2 linked regions of the Homo sapiens genome follow. Changing the gene in region 1 together with any one later gene gives a genetic interaction. Each region holds a gene or a part of one and is shown on either strand. Other genes may lie near its edges.

Region 1 (3,500 bases):
AGATTTTTACTTAGGATGTACAGCTTTCAGATTTGTAGGCAAGGAAAATGAAATTTTCTTTCAAAATAGGGTTTAAACATAGATAGGTTTTAAAAATAAAATCTCCTACTTTCTAGAAGACACATACACTGAAACACCAGAAACATTTGGAACATCAGTTTCCTCTATGTGTTGCTGGTCAAAGACTCAACCTCTTTTTTCTTTCTTTTCCTTAAAAGGTAACCCCTAAACACAGCTAAAACTATGCCATCAGCTGACTCCAAGGTACACACAGTCCTGTATCTGGAACTACTGAGTGGCAGGCATCTTTCTCTGCCTCTGACAGTGGAGTCCCCATCACTGCAGAGCATAGCCAAAGGAGTCAAAGGTCTCAGCGGGTCACTGCCTTATCAACCCTCACCAGTCCCTTATGTTTTTTAATATTTTATAATCTTGACATGACACCAAGATGCTTTAATAAAAAAGCACCTCTAACTCGGTCTTGTATTCACTTACCTTGAGCCTGGGACTTCTCTAGGCTCCTGAGGCAAAAACAGGTAGAGGGGAGATGGTGGAACATAAAACACAATTTTGCTTGGCACCCACCTTGGCGTCTGTCCCCATGACCAGGTCTTTCAATTCGATGATTTTGTCATTGATGGAGGAGCGATATCGTTTCTCAATGATATTATGGGTTGTCCGCCTTTCTCCTTCTTTGGGGGGCTCAAGCTGCTTGACTCCCCCAGGTACCTGCTTAATGGGCACTTTCTCTTGCCCCATCATTACAGGCATTGTGGTCAGAATGGTCCCACTGCTGCCCACCAGGGTCTAGAATAGGGACAGGTACACAGCAGAATGATCCCTTTGTTAGTCTGCATAAAGCAACCTCAACACAGACCTGCCCGCTTTGGCCAAGTGCTGCCAGACCTGGCAGTACTTCATGAGGTCTGAGACTCTTCCTGGGTTAATCAAATCAGGCCCCAAGAAGTCTCAGGAGCCACGGAACCTTGGTTACTACCTCCCTTCAAGAATCACTGCTGATAAACTACACCACAAGAGGATTAACATGGCTAAATATGTTTTAAGTTTTGATCTACGTATGCCAGAAACAAGTCATATGATTTCTGCTTTGCTGTCAAACTGTTAACCACTTCTAAAGTTGTACACGGTGAACCACGAGTTGGCACCAGAGAAAACTTTCTCCTAGTGTATGACACATTTTTTCCTCTCAAATGACAATTAAGCAAATTACTGCATTTCTTTATACAATTTTGCCATCAAAAAGCTCAAGGGCAGAAGTGACACTCTCAATAAGAGCCATTTGATTAAGTAAATAGGCCAACCATGGAGGTCTCCCCTTTTTATTCTTCATCTCTGTTTTCTCCTCTTATTTTTTCTAACTTTATTTTATTTTATTTTATTTTTTTTGAGACGGAGTTTCGCTCTTGTTGCCCAGGCTGGAATGCAATGGTGTGATCTCGGCTCACCACAAACTCTGCCTCCCAGCTTCAAGTGATTCTGCTGCCTCAGCCTCCCGAGTAGCTTGGATTACAGGCATGCGCCACCATGCCTGGCTAATTTTGTATTTTTAGTAGAGACGGGGTTTCTCCATGTTGGTCAGGCTGGTCTCAAACTGCTGACCTCAGGTGATCCACCCGCCTTGGCCTCCCAAAGTGCTGGGATTACAGGCGTGAGCCACCACGTCCTGTTTTTTTGTTTTTGTTTTTTTTTTTGAGACAAAGTCTCACTCTGTTGCCCAAAAGCTGGAGTGCAGTGGCGTGATCACAGCTTACTACAACCTGCACCCCCCTGGTTCAAGTGATTCTCCTGCCTCAGCCTCCTGAGTAGCTGGGAATACAGGCACCCACCACCACACCTGGCTCATTTTTGTATTTTTAGTAGAGATGGGATTTCATCATGTTGGCCAGGCTGATCTCAAACTACTGACCTCAGGTGATCTGCCCACCTCAGCCTCCCAAAATGCTGGGAATACAGGCGTGAGCCACTGGGCCTGGACCAATTTTAGTTTAATTTCTTAAATAATGGCCTCAATATCTAATCAGCCAATAAATAAATAAAAAGGTGCCCAATTTCATTAGTTGCCAATAAGTACGTCATGCACAATAAAAACCACAAATCTTAAGTTTATAGCTTGATGAATTTTACATATGTACACAATGTATATAACCACCCAGACCAAGATATAGCCCATTTCTACCAGCTCAGAAAGTCCCCGCATGCCCCTCCCCTCCTTGTCACCACCGCTCTGAATTCCAGCACCATAGCTTCATTTTGCCTCTTTTTAAACTTCATATAAATGGACTCATTAGCATGAACTCCTTTGGCTTGACACACTATTTCTTTTTTTTTTTTTTTGAGACGGAGATTTGCTCTGTCGCCCGGGCTGGAGTGCAGTGGCGCAATCTTGGCTCACTGCAAGCTCCACCTCCCAGGTTCACGACATTCTCCTACCTCGGCCTCCCGAGTAGCTAGGACTACAGGTGCCCGCCACCATGCCCGGCTAATTTTTTGTATTTTTAGCAGAGACGGGGTTTCACCATGGTAGCCAGGATGGTCTCGATCTCCTGACCTCATGATCTACCCACCTCGGCCTCCCAAAGTGCTGGGATTACAGGTGTGAGCCACTGCGCCCGGTGGCTTGACACACTATTTCTGAGGGACAGCCCCATGTTGTTTCATGCATCAGTAGCTTTTTTTTTTTTTTTTGAGAGTCAGTCTCGTTCTGTCATCCAGGCTGGAGTGCAGTGGTGCGATCTCGGCTCACTGCAGCTTCCACCTCTCAGGTTCAAGCAATTCTCCTGCCTCAGCCTCCTGAGTAGCTGGGATTACAGGCATGCACCATGCACCACCATACCCAGCTAATTTTTGTATTTTTAGTAGAAATGGGGTTTCACCGTGTTGGCCAGGCTGGTCTCAAACTCCTGACCTCAGGTGATCCACCCCTCTTGGCCTCCCAAAGTGCTGAGATTACAGGCGTGAGCCACCGTGCCTGTCAGCAGTTCTGTTTTTTAATTGCTAGGCATAATTTCATTGTATGAATATATCACAATGTGCTTATTTTCCTGTGGATGGACATTTGAGTTGCTTCCAGTTCTTGGATTTTATGAATAAAGCTAGTGCTTCTAAATTTTAATCACCATTTACTCTATCAGATTCTCATGCTATAGGATGCTGAAAGTGGCTAAGAACCTACAACTGAAGGATGGGGTACCTTCCATGTTCTTCACCTTGGAGCCCTTCCCTGCCTGGTGGCCCTAGGGTCCTTCAGAAGTCATCAGCAGGATCTAAGAGGTGAATGGTCTTGTGTGGAGCTATTAGCCAAGAATAGAGGGTCCTTCTGCTATTCTTTTCTACCTCCTTGTAGACTCCAGTACTCCCACATCGAACACACATTGCTAATACTTTTTCGAGCGAAAAACAACTAAGAGGGGTGACATTTACAATTTGACTGATTTGTGCTATAGACCCTCCCATACCTACTCAGCATATAGAGATTTAAC
Region 2 (3,500 bases), on another chromosome or scaffold:
CAAAGCGAGACTCCATCTCCAAAAAAAAAAAAAAAAAAAATATATATATATATATATATATATATATATATATATATATATATATATGACTTGGGAGTTATGCATATCACTTACCAATGCTGGTGTCCTGTTTGTCAAAACTTAGCCACTAACCAGGCCAGGCATGGTGGCTCACGCCTGTAATCCCAGCACTTTGGTAGGCCAAGGCGAGTAGATCACTTGAGGTCAGGAGTTTGAGACCAGGCTGGCCAACATGGGGAAACCCCATCTCTACCAAAAATACAAAAATTAGCCAGGCATGGTGGCGCATGCCTGTAATCTCAGCTACTTGGGGGGCTGAGGCAGGAGAATCACTTGAACCCGGGAGGCAGAGTTTGCAGTGAGCCACGAGATTGTGCCACTGGACTCCAGCCCAGGAGACAGAGTGAGACTCTGTCTCAAAAAAAAAAAAAAAAATCTAGTCTCTAACTAGTTAGCTATGTTTCTAGGAAGAAGAGGAGCATATTGGAAATACTGGAAACTGGACAAGAGTCTGTCCCCATGTTTTTTTGTCTGCATGCATTTATGTCTGGTGGGGTGAGGTTGCTTTTGATGCAAAGTGAAAAATGCTCTTTTCTCCCGATTTTTCATTGAGTTTTTCATCCTTGTCCAGGGATATTGTATAATAATCAGAAATGTGCTCTCATGTGGCTAAAAGCTTTTGATGGCTCTTATACACACTGAACAGTTGAGTCAGTGAGAGGCTGTAGTGGTCTAGCAGTTGGATAAGGTGAGATACTTATGTTTGCTTATCTCTCTTCTTTGAGTGTGCGGTGAAACTTGCCAAAATGGTGGGTTATGTGAGTGCTGGGACTGTGGAATACCTGTACAGCCAGGATGGCAGCTTCTACTTTCTGGAATTGAATCCTCGGCTGCAGGTAGAGCACCCTTGTACAGAGATGGTGGCTGATGTCAATCTCCCTGCAGCACAGCTCCAGGTGAGTCTCCCTGATCTGGGTTGCAGAGCCTAGAAAAGTCAGAGAGGCCTGAAAAATGGGTTTAACCAGTGTGTGATAAGAGAAAAGCACCTCCTATCTGAGTCACACCTAATGGTCATTTCTCTTTCACCCTGTATGTGTTATGCATGTGTGGTTTGGTTTTCCTGATGTAGTACAGACATAGGAATGTTATTTTTTCTAGCCAGACACATCTGATATAATGTGTCATGTTTTAGAAATAAATGTTAATAATGTATGCTTTATTCAATTATTTAGCTATAGTAAACTTCACAACTTTGTATTATAATTATTCCCTACTCATTTTTGTTTTTTTACTAGTGTTCTTTATTGAAATAATTCTGCATCAGAGATTAGTGGTTGAAGTTTTTCCTTACAAGAGTGTGGTAGCACACATATATTTTTATAATTTGTAAAGTGCTTGCTGTCAATATTATTGTCTTCTCTCAGCCCAGGAAACAAATATTATGGAAAGCAGTAATAGTTAATGATAAGGCTTGATATTATTTTTATCTAACATTTGCCCACATCGAGAACACCTTCTGGGTTCCTATTAAAGACTAAAGATTTACTTACTTCCTCCAGTGGTTTGCAGGGATGGAAGAGATAATTATGACACAATTAAGACTTTCTAGCTGTCTGTTTTTGGATGGCTATTAACATTTACTCCTCTGTTGGATATTTTCATTCTTATTACGTGATGGAGAAATGACAACAGGGGAACTGGTGTCTGTTGCATTAGGAATGTGGGGACTTCTTTAGAAGTGGAGAATATTCTAACTACTTATCTGTAGTGATATATTGTATTTCAAGCAACTTAGAGTTGATGATTGTAGAATACAGGTTATAAAAATAGAATGTTTTAGGGAGTGGCTCCAAAAATAAAAATATTTTAGGTTATCTGATAGCCTCTACACTTTAAGGGAAGTAACTGAAAAATTAAAGATGTGTGTTTTATTACCTTTCAGATTGCCATGGGGATTCCTCTATATAGAATCAAGGATATCCGTATGATGTATGGGGTATCTCCCTGGGGTGATTCTCCCATTGATTTTGAAGATTCTGCACACGTTCCTTGTCCAAGGGGCCATGTTATTGCTGCTCGGATCACTAGTGAAAATCCAGATGAGGTAACCCATCACTTAAAAGGTTTATACCTCCTTTTAATGAACTTTAATGTTAAGATAGTATCTGAAAGTATACTTCTGAAATATCTTGGGACTTCCTCTGGAGTGGGAAACATAGAGGTTTCTCAGAGCAGATAAGTAAATGGTTGTTGCTTCATTGGTTACTTAATCCCACTTAAGTCACTGTAGAGTCTTCAGTGGGTCTGTGGCACTGGGTCTTGGCCTTTATCATTTTTGTGTGTCTTCTCTGCTTCTGTGTGTGATTAACAGAGAACTTAAACAATGAATATATAAATCTTCTCTTCCTTCGAAACATAATATGGTCTCTCATTCTTTATTCTCTAACAGGGTTTTAAGCCCAGCTCAGGAACAGTTCAGGAGCTAAATTTCCGCAGCAATAAGAATGTTTGGGGATATTTCAGTGTTGCTGCTGCAGGGGGACTTCATGAATTTGCTGATTCTCAGTTTGGTCACTGCTTTTCTTGGGGAGAAAACAGAGAAGAGGCAATTTCGTGAGTATAATAGCATTTGATTGCATTTTACAAAATAAATTTGTGCTAATCTTAAGTGAAGGTGTGAGCATGGGAATAGGAATCATCTGCTGTCAAAGTAATAATATGAACAACCTTTTTGAAGAAATTTTGAATATCTTTAATTACACTTGCATTCATGTTGTATTAAATTATGCAGTGCTTGGCAGATGTTTTTCTGTTTGTTGTTCTGAGCCTTTTGAAGTATTTTTCCTTTCAAATATTTTTGATAAATGTATAAAATTGATTGCTTTAAAGGTATCTTATTTTTCCACAGGAACAGTATTGTTATTGAGGGGAGGTAGATTCTTGGCCAAGAACTAGGTATCAAATAAATCATAGACTTTTATTTTATTTTTTTCTTGTGAGAAGACTTAAAATCTATTAGCAATTTTCAAGTACACAATCTATTGTTATGAGCCATAGTCACCATGATGTACTCTTATAGTTATTTAAAATAATAAAATTATACTGCTCATATTATGAAAAGGACATAAAGAAACTGTCTACATTGCTAATACAAGAGACCTTAGCATGCTGTATATAACAGCTTATGCAAATATAACTGCTATATCATAAATGTTAGATAATATTCTGTTAATCATAAACAATGAATATTAAATTAACAGCACTTTTGCTTGCCTAAAACATAGGGCTGAAGGAGGTAATTTTAACAGCTTAGATCTTTTGGAATATCTATCTAAAATTGAAACTTGAACTAGTTCTTTTCTGTTTTTTAATGGTTTATTGCCTTGTATCAAACATTTAATACCATTCCCTTTACCTTTGTACTGTACATGGAGTAGGTAATTAATAAGTGTTTATTAGTATTAATTACTAATAAATAG

Evidence for each region. A genetic interaction does not mean that the proteins touch.
Region 2: changes in SREBF2 (region 1) and ACACA together harm fitness more than expected from each alone (negative genetic interaction), as found in Homo sapiens cells (one large-scale study listed by BioGRID).

The regions. Positions count from the first base shown.
Region 1 is NC_000022.11:41,871,105-41,874,604, reverse strand, and holds part of SREBF2 (sterol regulatory element-binding protein 2), read right to left. Parts: intron 808-3,500; coding exon 586-807; intron 1-585.
Region 2 is NC_000017.11:37,256,837-37,260,336, reverse strand, and holds part of ACACA (acetyl-CoA carboxylase 1), read left to right. Parts: intron 1-806; coding exon 807-977; intron 978-1,963; coding exon 1,964-2,125; intron 2,126-2,470; coding exon 2,471-2,634; intron 2,635-3,500. UniProt on the Homo sapiens protein: Cytosolic enzyme that catalyzes the carboxylation of acetyl-CoA to malonyl-CoA, the first and rate-limiting step of de novo fatty acid biosynthesis.